Linked DNA regions of Homo sapiens: region 1 is linked to region 2. Evidence: fine-mapped expression QTL. A gene starts in region 2. The other region holds a variant in brackets. All regions are shown on one strand. Distances are from middle to middle. Region 1 holds the start of LINC00941 (long intergenic non-protein coding RNA 941). Region 2 holds the start of CAPRIN2 (caprin family member 2).

Evidence for each region.
Region 1: its variant is fine-mapped to the expression of CAPRIN2 in fibroblasts (GTEx, PIP above 0.99). The same link has a PIP of 0.9 or more in atrial appendage, left ventricle, subcutaneous fat, tibial artery and tibial nerve.

What each region holds. Positions count from the first base shown.
Region 1 is chr12:30,791,586-30,800,423 of GRCh38, reverse strand. It overlaps LINC00941 (long intergenic non-protein coding RNA 941), which reads right to left and starts at 4,743. Exons shown (of 5, transcript NR_040245.1): 1 at 4,208-4,743; 2 at 2,109-2,279; 3 at 403-511. RefSeq lists enhancers at 3,952-4,453, 4,454-4,953, 5,456-5,955, 5,956-6,457, 6,959-7,460. The variant C/AC (reference allele first, on the strand shown) is at 5,249.
Region 2 is chr12:30,750,672-30,759,509 of GRCh38, reverse strand. It overlaps CAPRIN2 (caprin family member 2), which reads left to right and starts at 4,559. Exons shown (of 19, transcript NM_001385503.1): 1 at 4,559-4,759; 2 at 5,951-6,166; 3 at 8,377-8,439. The coding sequence starts at 5,990. LOC645485 (a long non-coding RNA gene) reads right to left here and starts at 4,436. Exons shown (of 2, transcript NR_135046.1): 1 at 4,239-4,436. RefSeq lists silencers at 3,031-3,234, 4,326-5,005 and enhancers at 4,933-5,102, 5,106-5,185.

The DNA of each region.
Region 1 (8,838 bases), 41 kb before region 2:
TCCATCATGGGGGTGGGGGCCCACACTGATGACCTTATCTAATCCTAATTATGTCCTAAAGGTTCCACTTCCAATCAACATTTGAATTTGGGGATTAAGTTTCCAAGACATGAAATTTAGGGGACACATTCAAACCATAGCAATGTTAGGAAATGACTCCCAGTCCCTTCCTTCATTCAGACTTAACACCAGCAGCGCACATATTGGAAAAAACAATTCAAACAAACGGCATGATTTCAGATAATGGAGACACAAATATCAGTCAATCAGAGACTAATTCCTAATCCCATTTTCCTCATTGTGAAGGGTATTCTGTCTCCTCTCCCATTTTCCAGGAATGGGATCAGTGGGCATTTCCTTTTTCCCATAGCCAAAGACACCACCAAGTGCTCCATTTCCTACCTGACTGATTCTTGATACCAGTCTACTGCTTCTTTCATAATCAGTCAGTGAATCCAAAACTGTTGTTTGGCTATCAACTGTCTCCTTTAGACACTTCTCGAGGGCGCTTCTGTCAGGGAAGAGAAGTGAAGAGAAAAGTAAGAATCCAGAGCACATGCAATAAACAAAGCAACCCAAAGTTGATAAGCATTCAGCAAGCATTCACTGAACACCTCACATTCAGCTAAGTGTGAATGGTGAGAAAGCAACACAGGAGGGAGGAAGCCAGGCTCCTTGCCATCAGGGGGGATCAATCTTGTAGACAAGGCAAAATTACATTTCACCCAAGACACCTATATTTTTTACATTTTAAGATTTCTAAAATGGGACTTCATCTTACAATCATGACACCTTCGACTGGATGAAATACAGTAACTACAACACAAAGCAGCATTGTGCCCTGAGAGGTGTGCAAAGCCTACAGCAATTAGGACACTGGACCAAGGTCAGGGTGCATATTAGAATCACCTGGGAAACTTTTAAAACTACCTTATGCCCAGATCCCACTCCAGACCAACTGAATCAGTATGAAAGAGTGGGGTTGAGCATTTTGGCATTGGTACTTTTTTTTTTTTTCAGACGGTGTTTTACTTGCCACCCAGGCTGGAGTGCAGTGGCATGATCTCAGCTCACTGCAGCCTCTGCCTCCTGGGTTCAAGTGATTCTCCTGCCTCAGTCTCCCGAGTAGCTGGGACTACAGGTGCCTGCCACCACGCCTGGCTAATTTTTTGTGTTTTTAATAGAGATGGGATTTCACCATGTTGACTGGGCTGGTCTCGAACTCCTGACCTCAGGTGATCCACCCACCTTGGCCTCCCAAAGTGCTGGGATTACAGGCATGAGCCACCACGCCTGGCCAGCAATGGTAGTTTTTAAAGCACCCCGTGAGATCCTAATATGTAGCCAGAGTTGAGAACCAGGATAGTAATTTCAAATGAGAGTACACATTCCCTGAGGTTACCTGAAGACTTTCCATGGGGCATGCTGACACGAATACTTTGGTAGAGGTCAGCACACTAGGGCTTATGGACGAAAGCTGCTGCCTGTTTCTGTACCCCCCAGGGAGCTAAGATGGTTTTTACATTTTTTAATGGTTGGGGGAAAAATCAAAAGGGAAGTAATATTTGGGGACACATGAAATTCAAATATAAGTGTCCATAATTAAAGTTTTATTGGAGCATAGCCATAATCTTTTGTTTACATATTGTCTATGGCTGCTACAAGGTTGGAGTTAAAGAGTTGGGATAGGACCATATGGCTGGCAAAGCCTGAAATATTTACTATCTGACACTTTACAGAAAAAATTTGCGGAGGCTGGCTTGAAGAGAATGAATCTTCAGAATCTCAACATTTTATGTCCTATTCCAGAAACTGACCTGCCTGTAAAGGTACAGCTGTTAAGGTGTCAGGTGTGGGTGGAGGCTCATCCCCTTTCCCATGCTTTTTTCATAGTTGTCCTCCCACTTTCAGAAGAAAGGTAGGCCTCTCACCAACACTGGGGTATGAAAAAAAACCCTAGGCACCAGACAAAAGAATAATCCCAAATACTGGTGTCTGATGGGGACTCTGACCACTGGGTAACCATATGTATCTATATATCGATATATATGTGCATTTGTGTGTGTGTAATATATAGTAAATCAGGTGAGTTCCAAATATTGCCTTACCAAACCTGAAGGAGAACCCAATCAAGTTGTCAGCTGGCAAATTATTGAAAGTATTTGGCTGAGTGTAGTGGTGCATGCTTGTAGTCCCAGCTACTTGGGAGACTGAGATGGAAGGACCTCTTGAGGCCAAGAGTACAAGTCCAGCTTGGGCAACCTAATGAGACCACATCCCTAAAAAAAAAAAAAAAAATTAGTGACGGATGGCTATGTGATTTTTGGCATATAACTTAGAAAGGGTTCAAAGAATTGAGTAACATAGTGATAAAAAATTAATGTCATAATTATTTATGGAAACAAGGTACTTTAAGGCTTACATCTAAAATATGTTAAAATGCTGAGTATTGTCTCATAGGAATAAGCAATATTCACAGATACGTGAACTAATTAGGAAGAAAAAGCCCATTAATTTCATTAATGCCAGCAGGGGGCAAAGGCCTTGAGCGTTTTGGACAGTGAGAAGCCCCATTGCCCCAGATCTGGGAGATCCTCTCCCGGCCGGTGGAATATGCAAGGGAAAGGCCATGTGAGTCTAGATTCCATGGTGTTAATGCCAGGCAGAGGCAGACTTTAACAGACAAGGAAATGAAGATGATGATGGGTTCAGGAGGAAGAGGATAAAAAGTTTACCGGGCCGGGCGCGGTGGCTCACGCCTGTAATCCCAGCACTTTGGGAGGCTGAGGCGGGTGGATCACAAGGTCAGCAGTTCGAGACCAGCCTGACCAACATGGTGAAACCCCGTCTCTACTAAAAATACAAAAAAATTAGCTGGGCTTAGTGGCGGGCGCCTGTAATGCCAGCGACTTGGGAGCCTGAGGCAGGAGAATTGCTTGAAACCGGAAGGCGGAGGTTGCAGTGAGCCGAGATTGCACCTCTGCACTCTAGCCTGGGCAATGAGAGCAAAACTCCATCTCAAAAAAAAAAAAAAAAAAAAGTGCAGTTTACCAAAGGCAAATGTGGCCGGAGCATGTAGGATGAACTAGGGAAGAGGAGGCTCGAAGCCCCGGACTGGCCATGAGGCTGGCAGGAACCTAGAAGAGGGGAAACGCGTGCCCGACTTGGTATCGTCCTGGAGGGTCCAGAGAGAAGAGGATGCAGGCAGCATACGTTTTAAGGGATGAGTCGTCGGAACTGGATGCTAATCAGATATAATCAGCTGACGACATTCCTTCTGTGGAGTAAGCCACTTGGGAAGACAGTCTTGGGTGCGGAGGGGACCCAGCGGGACGAGACCAGGTGCCTGCTGGTCTCCCAGGTTCGCGCAGGAAGGCTGGGAATTTCCTTGCCTCCTCCCCACCGCACCATCCTCCACCCCCGGCCCGGAGCTGTCTCTACCTGGAGAGAAAAAACGGAAAGGCCGAGAAATCAGAGCCAGAGGGCAGAGTGAAAGGGGTGGGGATGGGAGAGGATACAAAGGGGTTAGGACGAAGAAAACGGACTTCCTAGAGTCCCGACTTGAGGGCTTGACTTCAAGAAGAGAAGAGAAGTCTGAAACGGGGGCGAGAGCAAAGGCAGGGGGTTGGGGTGGTCGGGGGGGGGCGGCGATTATAATCGACTTTTATGGCTTGACGGCCAGGGCAGAAATTAAATTTGGGGGCCGGCTAAGGCTAGAGAGTAAGGTGACGGCTCGCCCCGCGGGTTTGGAGCTGTGCGCTGGGGGCCAAGGGAGCAGCGGGAGGAGCGCATGCCTGGGGCGCACGGGCCGGGAGGGGCGGGAGGAGAGCCCAGTCCCCAGCTCAGATTACTCTCCTAGGCATGGTCCCCACCAGAGCCGGGGCTGGAAGCTGGAAATCCGAGTAGAGCTGACTCGGACTTAGCTGCCCAAGGGAAAGCCTCCGGGCGGTCCTCGCTGCGCCCCTAGTCCGGGGCCCCGACCCCTCCCGGACACTGCTTGGGCCATGCGGGCGCCGCGTTGCCGGCCACTCGTCGTCCCGGGGTCCCAACTGGGGCCGCTCCTGCTGTTCTAGAGCTTGCTGGCCCCGGCGCGCCTCTCTTGCAGCTCCTGTACTACTCGAGGGGACCACGTCGTCCCGGAGGCGCGGCCATCGAGAGGATGCTGCGGCCGCGGGGCGGCGGGGGCGGGCGTTTCAGGGCTACTCACCCGAGCTGGGAAGGCAGGAAGTCTGTGCTGGCTGGGGGTTGGTCTCAGAGGGACTCTGGGGCTTGGACACAAAAATCGCGGCGCACTGGGGAGGACACCCGGAGCGGTGGGAACTGCGGTGTGGACCCGGGAGAAAAGGGGGTTGGAGGTGGGGGGAGATCGCGCGGCACGCGTTGCATAACCTGACCTGCCCTCCTGGGCTGGAGGCAGGAGTGACACCTCCGCCTGAGCCGCAGTTCAGAGAAGGCTACCGCGGCGCTGGGTCCTGCGGGACAGCCAGCAGGGCTGGGGTGGAATGGGGGCAGGGGAAGGAGCCCTGAGAGGAGCCAGGATGGGTCTGGACCTGGCTCCAAGTCGCGTGCCCTACACACCCCCTCTGCGCTGCCCAGCGGGGCACGGCCCGACCTCGGAAGGCCCATCCGGCTCTCAGAAGTGGCCGCTCTACCAGCTGCCCATAATGCTGCCGAGGAGCCTGTGCCAGTCCCACGGCTGCCGTGCAGCAAGCGGGCGGCCCGACTGACTTCAGCCACGTCCCCTGCGTCAGACAAGTGGGCGTCCCCTGCGTCGAGACAAGTGGGGGATCCGCGAGGCCTGCAGGGGCGCAGGGACCAGAGTGCTAAGACGTGGCATGACCTTTCAGGGAGAACTGCGCAGAGGGTGGCCAAGGGTCACCTCCCTCGAGGGGCGAAGCCCTGAGATGTGAGGATGATTCTTAAGACAGCGCCCTTCCCGCCCCTTCCAACCCCCCAGACCACCACCCGGGTCTGGGAACAGGGTGAGCGCATGGCGAGAGGTTGTCTGGTTTTGTAGCTATCAAGTTGTACCCCCGCTGTGCCCATAGGAAGTGACTCATCTGCTTGTCAGGTAGTGGCCTTGCTGTGAGCCAGGACCATATTAAGAAAAGAAAGAAAAAAAGGAGCAGCAAAACACTGTGCCCCTGCACAATGTGCTCTCCTTTCTTCTGCCCTCCCTCTCCTAGGCTGTCCTCTTCTTCCTCCACTTGTAGTTTGCTCAGCCCCCTCCCATCCACTGCCACCCCCG[C/AC]CCAGTTGAATAATGCTCGTATCTGAGTCAGCGGATGTGAAACAAAGGGTTATTTCTCCTTATCTAATTTTGTGGAAGATTGACTAAAAGAGGGTGGAGAGTGTGTCTATTTAGCAGGAAAAAGATGTTTTTAACGTGAATAATATTGAGAAATGTGCTGTGACTTTCACTGTTGGGCAAAGCAGGGAGACGCCTGCCTAGCTGGCCCTTCCTGCAGGCTTGGTAAAAAGTCCTCTCCGGTGGAGGGTTGGTGGCCATTTGTCAGGTACCTAAAGAATACAAGGCGCTATGCTAGGAACTAGAACTGTACAGAAATATCCCGAAGGCTCTAATGTCATGGGACCTAACTCATTTCGGAGGAAGTAAGGCTTGAAGGTAGAGAACTATCTTGCAAGGCCGCCTGTGGCAAGCTCTTTGCACAATCAGTGAATGTACAGAAATCCAGGGTAAACAAAAATTACTTCCAACTGGGATATACTTCATAGAAAAGGCATCTGGGGTGGGGCGCAGTGGATAACGCCTGTAATCCCAGCACTTTGAGGGGCTGAGGTGGGTGGATCACCTAACTTCAGGAGTTCCAGACCAGCCTGGCCAGCCTGGCCAACACGATGAAACCCTGTCTCTGCTAAAAAAAATACAAAAAATTAGCTGGGCGTGGTGGTGGGTACCTGTAATCCCAACTACTTGGGAGGCTGAGGCAGGAGAATCGCTTGAACCCAGGAGGCGGAGGTTGCAGTCAGCCAAGATGGCGCCACTGCACTCCAGCCTGGGCAACGAGAGCAAAACTCTGTCTCCAAAAAAAAAAAAAAAAAAAAAGAGAAAAGAAAAAGAAAAGGCATTTGGACAGCCCTGGGGTTGGCAGAAGACTTCCGGATGGTAGAAGCCAAGGTCCTTGGGTGGGACAGGATAAGGTATGTGGCTAGAGTGGAGAATCTGTGTGGCAGGAATGTGAGAAAAGATGCCAGAAAAGGAGATAGGGACTCCTCTGTGTGTGGCATGGGAACTGGGCTTTGACTTTCATTGCATAGTGAAGCAACTGAAAGTCATGAGCAGGGGCACAGCGTGGCTCCAGAGAGGGCTGGAGAGAGATGCTTGCTGGCCATATTTGTCTGCAATCTTCCACTCTTCTTTCTTCTTACTCTACCCTTTTTTTTTTTTTTGACAGAGTCTCGCTCTGTCACCCAGGCTGGAGCGCAGTGGTGCCATCTCAGCTCACTGCAAGCTCCGCCTCCTGGGTTCAAGCCTTTCTCCTGCCTCAGCCTCCCAAGTAGCTGGGACTACAGGCACCCACCACCACGCCTGGCTAATTTTTTGGTATTTTTTTAGTAGAGATGGGGTTTCACCATGTTAGCCAGGATGGTCTTGATCTTCTGACCTTGTGATCTGCCTGCCTCGGCCTCCCAAAGTGCTGGGATTACAGGCGTGAGCCACCGTGCCCAGCCACACTCTACTCTTTGTAAACCTGGCTCACATAAAACTCATCTCCATGGGCAAACAGCTCTGCTCCAGTGACTGGTCGTTTTCAAGAGAAAGAAACCCCGGGCTCTCTCTCTCTCCCTGGTGTTGTAGTGATATAGTGAGGGGCTTACAGATGTGGCTTCAGAAGACCTGGATTTGCATACCAACTTCACTGCTTACTATCTCTGCAATCTTGGGGAGTTGCTGCCTGGGTCTGGGTTTCCTCAATTCCACCATGAAGGCACTGAGTGAGCCTTCTTAAAGTGAGCCTGCACCACCTTCCAGATTATAAATTTCTATTGAAAGCCCAGTTAGATTTAGCCCTCCATGACTCTATTCTGAGACAGAGAGGAGGCTTTTGCAGGCCTGCTCTGTTGCTGACTCAGGGCTGCAGGCACAGGACGTGGGGCTTGATAAATAAGTGTTGAATGAAAGAACAAAAGAATGCAATGCATGAATAAAGCAATGAATGGTTAGCTCTGCTTGGAAAGCATTGGTAAGCTGAGACCAGCCCCAGCACGGGTTCTGGCTGCCTGGGGTTAGCACCTCAAAACCCAGATAACTCTGATGTTCCCACAAAAATCAATACTGGAGAAAGCATCAGTAATTGCATTTCCTGGGCAGTCGTTTGGCTTACCCTTTCCCTACCTGTCTTTCTTGCCATTTCCCATGACTGTCATCCAGAGGAATCTCTGTAAGGAAAGACAGCAGCAACTTGGAGCTGGTCACTGTGAATGTTTACACACAATTTTATAGACAGAATGTGTTTCATCACAAATTCTTTTTTCCTGAGCACTTGCTATTTTGACCTGTAGTGTTAGAACAACTGTTTGGTTTAACCCTTTTATCTTCTGGTTGCCAGAAGCTACTTTCAGCCACACCACTCTTCCAGAGTGTACAAAGCTGTGTTATTTGTGCCAGGCACTGTGCCAGTGGTTCACATTTCATCCCATGCTCACAACACCCTATGAGGTCAGCATGATTAACCTGTTTATTAGAGGCTGGGTGATTGGCCCGAGATCAGCAGCTAGTGCAGGTCAGAGCAGGGCTATGCATGTAACATCAAAGCCTACTTTTCTTTATCAGGCATTCAGTAATGTTCACTGAATGCACAGAATTGAATATAATCTTTCATTTCTCTTTTTAACCTTTACCACTGTGGATAGAGAATAGTGGCCTACCTTTTGGAAGTGTCCCATTTTTATTATTTAGAGAGGCAGCATAGCGGCAATTAAGAGCATGGGTTCTGGAGCAAAACTGCGTGGTATAAGTCTTTGCTATGTGGGACCTTGGGCCACTTAGCTCACCTCCCTGGGCCTTAGTGCTTTCATCAGTACAAATGGCATAAGGGTACTTAGCTCATAGGATTGTTGTCAAGATTAAATGAGATACATGTATGAAGTGCTTAGTGTGATGCCTGGTGCGGAAAAGGAGCAATAAATATTAGCTGCTCTCACTGTCATCTTCATTGTCATGAATATTCTCCTCTGATTTTTGCAAGATCTTTCATGTAATGCCATTCACAAACAGGAAGCTCATAAATAGTATTCTTATCCTACTATTTTTAAAGAATGGGTGGTTGGCAGTTCAAAGTGAAGAAATTAGGGATGACTGTTGGAGAGGAATTTGTTGGACAGAATAAGATGTGCCTTAGTATCTAAAGAAGATTCTTAATGAATTTTTAACATTATTAAAAATGTTAGGTTAATGTAAATTCTACATTGGAATTAAATTATGAGGAAGATGTCCACTATTTCTTCCCTAAACAAATGAATATCTTTTGACTTACAAATAGATATGATATCTTTTGACTTATAATAGATGAAAATTACATTACTATTATAGAACCAAACTTGGGTCTGCTCTCCCGGTACAGTAAAACCAGATATCTACAGTGAAGTTTTGCAGCAATAGAAGGAAAAGCATTTATTTGTAGGGTGCCAAACAAAAACGACTAGACAGCTAAAAACCCGTGTGGCTAGAACTGCTAGTAAGAGGGAGAATGATATAAAAACAGAATTAGAGAGGAAAGCAAGGGGCGAGATTACTGAGGGCATTGGGGTGAGATGGAGCAGGAGCCCCCTCTCTAGAGGCCTGAAAACCCCAAGCATGGAAATAAAGAAAAATCTGGA
Region 2 (8,838 bases):
CTAGAAGAATATAAGCAAAAAGTTAATAATGGTAATCGGTGGAGGGGGCAGCTTTCATGTTTTTGGGAAAATACTTTTTCTGGTTTGGTATAAAAACTAAACATATGCTATAAAAATAAAGTGAAAACATCTTTCAGCCTTTTCCATGCATATTTAAAATGAAATATTTTACAAAGTCACAATCTTACTAAATGTTTTATACCGTGTTTTATCCTGCCCTTTTTTCACTTCATATAATATCATGTCATTGAATATTCTTTGAAAAGATGATTTGTACTACTTGAATTAAAATTCATGGCTTAGAGTCACATTATTTAGCCATTTCTCTATTGTTGAGTGTCTAGGTTGTTGTTTACAATTTCCCACCACTTAAAAAAATGTGGTGCCTAGCATTTTCATAAATAAGTGATTGTTTGCATCTCTGATTATTTTGATAGGGGAGATTCCTAAAATAAAGGCTACTGGATCAAAAGATATGAATATTTTAAAATGTCTTTCTGAATGAATTCCTTTGAAGACACTGTAACACTGAATTGCTTATTCTTTTTGGTTTCAATCTTCAAGTTTAATTGCCTATTTCTATACTTTATTTACTCCATGGAAGCAGCAAGGGAAAGGGATGAAGCGGCCTGGAGTGCATGTTGCATTAGAGGGCAGAAGACCTAGATTCTTTAGGTCTTGGAAAACTCACAAATGTCCACCAGCTTTATATACCTTGTCTTTCAAATAAGGGCGGGGGGGTGGGATTCCTTAGCCATAAATTCCACAGTTCTCTAGTTCTCCTTGGCTACTAGGAGAAATGCTGGGCTTCGTATTATGGCAAAAGCAGCAAATACAGGTATCTCAGTGGAGGATATGTTTTCATGGCCTAGTCTCTAGTCAGATGCTTTTACAGAAACGAAATGAAATCCTTAACAATGCTGTTAATAGGTAATATTATGTTTGTTTTATTATCAGCAGTTTTACAGCTGAAAAAACTGAAGCCCACAGAATTTCAGTCACTTGCCCAAGATCATTCAGCTAGTAAGGGGCAGGAACAAGAATCCAATCCATGTGTGTCTGGCTCCAAAGCCCATGCTGTTGACACTTTATAATACTTCAAAGTTGGACAGAAATCATATTTTTATGGGCTTGATATTATTGATTTAATGACACACATTCATAAGTTCTACACTGATTACTCCTCCTCTAAAGAACTTTTATTTCAAAGGTACTTAATGGTGGAGCACTATTAATGCATTAACTTCAATATCAGAAAAACAGTATCAACAAAACCAATAGGAATGTATAATTTTATGAAAAAATAAGCCTACCAAATTATTAATCTTACAAACTAGATATTTCTCTAAAAATACCCTAAACTATTATGGCAAGTTTTTTTTCCTACCTGAGGTCTATATTTCTCAGTTCTTTACTTTCATAAAAAGTTTCTCAAATATTTGAATAGACACTCTATGAATCAGCAAGTATGTGAAAGTACTGTATATATATATATATATTTTTTTTTTTTTTTTTTTTTTGAGACAGAGTTTCGCTCTTGTCATCCAGGCTGGAGTGCAGTGGCGCAATCTTGGCTCACTGCAACCTTCTCCTCCTGGGTTCAAGCGATTCTTCTGTCTTAGTGTCCCAAGTAGCTGCGATTACAGGGGCGCACCACCATGCCCGGCTGATTTTTGTATTTTTAGTACAGATGGGGTTTCGCCATGTTGGCCAAGCTGGTCTTGAACTCCTGATTTCAGGTGATCTGCCTGCCTTGGTTTCCCAAAGTGCTGGGATTACAGGCGTTAAGCCACCACACCCGGCCAAAAGTACTATCTTTTTAACAACCTTATGTTATTGTTCCTGTCTTTTTCTTTCTTAGCCTTCTTATTATTTTTCTTGGTGACTTTCTCCCTCTCTCTCTGTCTCTTGGTGGCAATTCTCCACAAAGTCTCGTAGAGCCAATAAGAAACAGACTTCTATCACCCACAACCATGTGTCTAAGATAATTTCTCATATCTCTACTAACACGCTACCAGGTTTCACATCCTTTGGTGGATTTATCTTTCCAGTTTCAACAATATGAAGCTATATTAATTTTAAGTGACTACAGCATAACCATCCCTGCAGCAATTGAACATTTGTCAGACAGTGCATATTTAACACCTTCACATTTTCAAAGGACGTAAAGTCTGGCTGTTTTTGTAGAAATCAAACCATCCATTATTAAAGTCTTTAGTATTTTTGTCTTCGGGTTTTTTGATTTGGTTGTTTTTGCCATTTACATCTATAGCTTTTACTGAATTCCCACTTAGCTCCACGAAGGCAGAAGCTATATTGTCTCAGTCACCATTATGCCTTATCACCTACTACATAGCAAGTGCTAAGTAAACATCTGTTGAATGAATAAATGAATATATTCTTCTATCAATGATTCGAGACAACACTTTTTATCATATTTCCAATATAGTTATTCCTTGCTAAGCTTGGAGGTGGCATGCCACAGATACTGCCTCACAGTTGGCAAGAAAAGTCACGGTCTTACAGAAAATAGGGAGTGGGAGAGGGTAAAATAAACTAAACTCCTGACAAATAAAAGTTTTGGGGACATGTGCTTTCAAAGTAAGCCAGACTTACTGACTTTAAAGATCTCCTCTAGCAGAAAAGCTTTTATCTGAATCATCTTTTTAACTTGTTCAGAAGACATTGCTTCAAGAGTATCTACTGTGGTATGTTCTCCTACAAATGTCACGCCATACGTATACAGACTGTACCCTACTGGACTTGAAATTCAATTATTTTTGCTTTTGCATTCTTTCGTGATGCATTTTTATAATCCTTCCTGAGAAGTAAATCTGTATGGATTTATTCATTTAGAAGAATATCCATTTAGTAGAAAATTTAAAATTTACGGCCTCCTTTTTGCCTGACCGATTAGAAGGCAAACATTTCTTTCTTTCTTTCTTTTTTTGAGATAGAGTCTTGCTCTGTCACCCAGGCTGGAGTGCAGCGGCACAATCTCGGCTCACTGCAGCGTCCGTCTCCGGGTTTCAAGCGATTCTCCTGCCTTAGCCTCTGAGTAGCCATGATTACAGGCACATGCCGCCATGCTCGGCTAATTTTTGTATTTTTAGTAGAGATGGATATTCACCACGCTGGCCAGCCTGGCCTCGAACTCCCGACCTCAGGTGATCCACCCCGCCTCGGCCTCCCAAAGTGCTGGGATCACAGGCTTGAGCCACTGCGCCGGCAGGGGGCAAACATTTCATGATTAATCTGACTGAAATACCATTTTTAGGTTCATCATTAGCTCGGACTACAACTCAGGCTGTGCTGTAACTTTGTGTCAACTCATTGATCCAACAGTGTGTCCTTCACATTTTTTCTTATGGCCACTGTTTTTTGTGTTACCAAAGGTGAAGGCATAGCCTTCCTCTCCTCATGTTCAGCATCTTCTGCGTTTCTCTGTTTATAAACAATGAGAAAAAGGGAAAATCTAGTATTTCTCTGACCCTGAAGAACACATATGGGATTCAGAGATTCAAAGTTAAAATGCAACATTAGGGTACATTATGTCACCAGGGACCGAAAAGAACACGGATAATAGATGCCAAAAAAATGTATTAAGTAATGTTAAAATTAATTTGTGTGAAGTTGACCAAGGCTTTTAAAACTAGACCTTTGTTTCCTTGATTCTTCTTCTGAATTTTCTGTTCTTTTGCTAGTCTCAATATTTTTTATCAGAGCGTCAGGGACAATCAGGACCTAAAAAACTCCACTTGGTGTAATAAGTAAACACATGTTGGGGCAAAGTATTGCTGAGTGTGTGTGTGTGTTTCTTATTTGGTATCAGAAACACCTTCCTTTCCTCAATAAACTTTTACATATTTCCAGACTTTTCTCTTAATTTTATGTAACCTTACAAAGATTTTTTACAGCTTTCTCTGCGTGCCAGTCAATTAATGTGTGTCACATGAACAAATAATACGGCTTGAATAAACTCAATCCTATTATTGCAGGTTGCGAAGTCACCTACTCCGTTTTTATGGCGATGCTGATTTGGGGCATTCTGCTCTTACAGGCTGATTCCCCGGTAAGGAAACGGTGTTTTTTCCCCATCCTACTATGAAAGATGCTATCTGAGGGGCAAAGGCGCATCTGCATTTCACGACTACCCACTAGGCTACGACAGCCTCAAGCATGGCTTATCTGGTAGTTCCGCGAAGGGCTCGCTGCCCTCCTGGAGCTATTGGAGTCACCTGTTCAAGGTCGCGAAACCACCGGTGCCGCCGGCAATCAGCGAGGTCCAGCGGGGCTGCGCGGTTTCCGGCCTGCCGGCGTTCGGCGTCGCCTCGGCCCCACCTGGTGCCCCGCAATCTGCGCAAAGGCTGGGAGACCGCGCCCTCTCCCGACCTACCACCAGCCCAAGCTGGGCCCGGAACTAACACCCGACAAGCGCTGGCGGCCAGCTGCAGCCGGGAAGGAGCACCGGAAGGAGGCGGTGGCGGGGCGGCCGAGGGCGGAGCGGGCCGGGGCGGGGCGCGGCCTACAAAAGCCACGCGCGGCGCGGTGGGCGGGCCTGGGCGCGAGCGGCTGAGTCGGCTGGGTCTCTGGCGCCGCAGAGGCCGCGGGCGAGGACCGGGAGGGGAGAGGGAGGAGACAGGAGGAGGAGACGCGAGTGCGGGGTGGCGCCGGTCCACCTCCGCAGCGCTCCTGCCTCCCCCAGGCTTTGGAAGGCGGGCCCGGGCTGCGGCAGCGGCGGCCTCGGCTGCCTGGGGAGGTGAAGTCGGGCTGCGGCGGCCTCGGTCGGCGCGGCGGAGGGAGGCGGCTGACCCGGCGAGGGTGGGCAGGTCTGGGCGGCCGGCGCCGCTGCGAGGTGGAGGGGCGGCTTGGCATCCCCGGGGCGGGGCGGGGCTCCCGAGGGCCGCGGTCGGTGCGTTTTCCGCAGGTCAGCCTCCCCCGGGGCCTTGCAGAAGCGGCTTCTGCGTACCCGGGGCGGCTGTGGGAAGGGTGGGGGTCGGTGCCTGCAGGGCTCTCCGTGGCCGCTCGGGAGAGGTGCTCTTCGCTCAGGCTCCCCCGGAGACTTGAGGGGGTGCGCGCTGGCGTGCATGGGGCCTGTTCTGTCCTTGGTTTGGGGATGCTCCTAAGGGGGGAGAAAGGGATACCTCGGGTGCTTGGAGGTCGAGAGACGGATACGTAAGTGCGCAAGGGCCACTGATTAGGGCACGGGAAGGGCTCGCTAGAATGAGCTCTTAAACTGGTTGGGTGTAAGCGGTTTTGGGCTAGTCTAAACCAAACAACTGAGAATAAACGCGGGGTTCCTGCAGGTTGAGAGAGTACCTGTCTGCAAATGTCCAGTAGTGATGGATTGCCTTGTAGGCCCCAGAGCAATCGGGGAAGTTAGCATTCTTGTTCAAGAAGCTGCTGGTTCACTTAGAGCTATAAAAGAATGTTGTGAGTTTGGATTTTCTTCCAAACGTTCAGGATTGAGGTTAGGGCTGGTGGTGAGGGATCATGTAAAGAGGTTTGAGTGGCTCAGCCTTAGGTCCCGGTGTGGAAAGCTTATTCTTTTGGTGTCATCACGTGGCCATGGGAATTATTTAGAATGTGATCTGCCCTCATGAGAAGAAAGGAGCTCTGAAGCCGTTGCAGTTCTTCCTCCCTATGTGGAAAATCGAATTTCTGGAAACATCCTCCGTATTGGGAGATTTTGCCTATGTAAAGGCTATCCTTATTGGCTAGCGGCACTAATTACTTTAAAAGTAGGATGGAAGTACAAGTATCTCAAGCATCATTGGGTTTCGAGCTCACTTCTGTGGAAAAGAGTTTAAGGGAGTGGTCTAGACTTTCCAGGGAAGTTATTGCCTGGCTGTGTCCCTCTAGTCCTAATTTTATACTTAACTTTCCCCCACCTCCTTCAGCCTCATCTGTTTCAATGGTGCAACTCTTTTCATCCCCTTTTGGTTACCAGTCACCTTCAGGCCATTCAGAGGAGGAAAGAGAGGGGAATATGAAGTCAGCCAAGCCCCAAGTGAACCACAGTCAGCATGGGGAAAGCCAGCGGGCCTTGAGCCCCCTGCAGTCTACTCTGAGTTCTGCTGCATCTCCTTCCCAAGCGTATGAGACCTATATTGAAAATGGACTCATATGCCTTAAACACAAAATTAGAAACATCGAGAAAAAGAAGGTAACTTTTTTTCTTCCAGTCCTGTAGATGCATGATCTTAAAGATTAAGGAGCTGACATTTTTCTTTCAGAGCTCATAGGTGTTCTCTACTAAAAATTTAACTAACCTTAGGTTTAGCTGCTTTAAACAAGCAGGTTACGTGTTGGAAATATTAAACATTTTCTGTTTCATTTGTCAAAACAACGGAATAAAAATATTCTTCATAGTTACATTATGCATGCTGCTGTTGAAATACTTTAAGAGCTAGCTATTTTAGGTGAGATTAATTCCTTATGTAGTATTAATGTTTCTTTTCATAGATGTGTTAATAGCTGATTTTTTAGCTTGTTTTCCTTGTGACTTTCTGCAGCAGTTGATATTGCAGTATAACTGCTGCAGTCGTTGGAAGGTTTAACCGTAGTAGAACTAGAAAATGTTTTACCACTTACTTTTGTGGTGTTAGGTGAAGATTTAAGATTGCTAGGTGAAAGCGTGGTAGTCAGCCTTGTAAAGAGACCCAGGAGTTAAGCCTAGCTACAGAAAATGCTGTTGTAAAGATCTAAATCCTTCTTCATTTCCTGAGTCATGTAGCCTGTGAAACAGACTGCACGTTGCTTTGCTGTATTACGTTTCTCTTCTGCTTTTGGACAGGTGAGGTTGAGTGACTATCTGGACCTATGTGTTGTTAAGTACTTTTGTGCCAAGACCTAGTTAGACCTTAAAGTTGCTTTTAATGGAGGAGTGTGAAGAGACTCTTTAGAGTCTGGTTGACTCTTTTTTTTTTTTTTTTTTAACCTAAGAAAGTAAAGAAGGGCAAGTTGCTAGTAGCTTCTCTGTAGCTCTCACCATTTATCTTTTTAACGTATGCAGTTGATCACAAGTGTGGTAAGGTGAGTGTGCCAGGTCAGCACAAATTCCCCATCACTGTGATAAATGATCAAAGCAGGATCTATTGACGGAGCCTCCCTCAGGTGGAGGAACTACATATATGTATGCTTATGCTCTCTAGCTTACCTATAGTACCTCTTTAATTTTGAATACCAGATAGTACGAGTACTTTTGTTTCAACCTTCTGGGAAAGAATTTTTCCACTAAAGCCAATACAGGAGGAACCTAAAGAATGCTTTTAGAGTACCATAGTGGGTCCGGGTGCAGTGGCTCACACCTGTAATCCCTGCGCTTTGGGAGGACAAGGCAGGTAGATCACCTGAGGTCAGGAGTTTGAGACTAGCCTGGCCAACATGATGAAACCCCGTCTCTACTAAAAATACAAAAAGAATTAGCCAGGCGTGGTGGGGGGTGCCTGTAATCCCACCTACTCAGGAGGCTGAGGCAGGAGAATCGCTTGAACCCAGGAGGTGGAGGTTGCAGTGTGCCGAGATCGCGACACTGCACTCCAGCCTGGGCAACGGAGTGAAATTCTGTCTCAAAAAAAAAAAAAAAAAAAAAAAAAAATACCATAGTGGGTTTATGTCATTATTATGGGGCCAACAAATGCAATTTATTTTTCATAATTTCCTTAAGTATCAAATATAATATGAAAAATAACTTCAAGATGAGCCTACTCTATGATAATGATAGAAAAGAATTCTTGGTGTTTCTGTACTTCCAATAGGAGTTTCTTTTTAGGAAAATGCCACATAATTCAACAGGTAACTGAACTAATAGTTTAAGCATGAGATTAGAGTAGGACTTCGTAACCTCTACACCACTGACATTTTGTACAGGATAATTCTTCGTTGTAAAGGGCTGTCCTGTGCATTTTAAGATGTTTGGCAGCATCCCTGGCCTCTAACCACAAGATACCGGTAGCACTCTTCACCTCCCTTCCCCCTCCCAAGTTGTGATAACCAAAAATATCCCTAGATATTGCCAGGTATCTTTGGGGGACAAAATTGTTCCCTGTTGAGAAGCTACTGTGTTGGGGACACATGATTTAGTAGGTAAGTCCCCATGGGTTAAGTAGTCTAGTTATTAATAGAGTCATTAAGAGAAAATAGTTTTATTACTGCTTAGGTTTTGTAATTCCAGACTCATGTGATTCTGTGTATTTTTTCTCCCCTGACTGGAACTCATCTACAGTTGCTGCATGCCGTATAGTAAAATGATAGTCTTGCAGATTGATAGCTTACTTCAAGGACTTTGTTTCCTAGAGACAAGATCTGGCATTTACTTTATTTGCTTCTGAATTTTATGTCAGACTATGGTAGATACAAGTTTCTCTTTTGTAGCTCAAACTGGAGGATTATAAGGATCGCCTGAAAAGTGGAGAGCATCTTAATCCAGACCAGTTGGTAAGTGGCTTATGATCTTTTAGTAAGACTTGCTGGTTTTCTTTTCTTAATAAAACTACATGGATTTAGTGCGATCAGTCTTTATAGCACACACACACACAGTTAAAATCCATAGTTTGTTCAAAACTGTTTCAGAAGACTTTGTTGTTTGTGCCTGTTAGATCTCAGATATGACTTTTTGTTCTGTTGACTAGAAGATGGTACGCATGGGGGTGTAGATTGTTAACAGGAGTGAAAGTGTAGACTGTCACTACGAGTTAACATACAGATTTAAGTTAAACTTATGTGCCAGAGTGGACTGAAGGAGAAGAGAAGGCATACTCTACCTTTCAGCTCTTCACTGGTATATTCTAAACCTGACATCTTTCTGCTCCAGAATGTGAAAGAATATTTACTGTA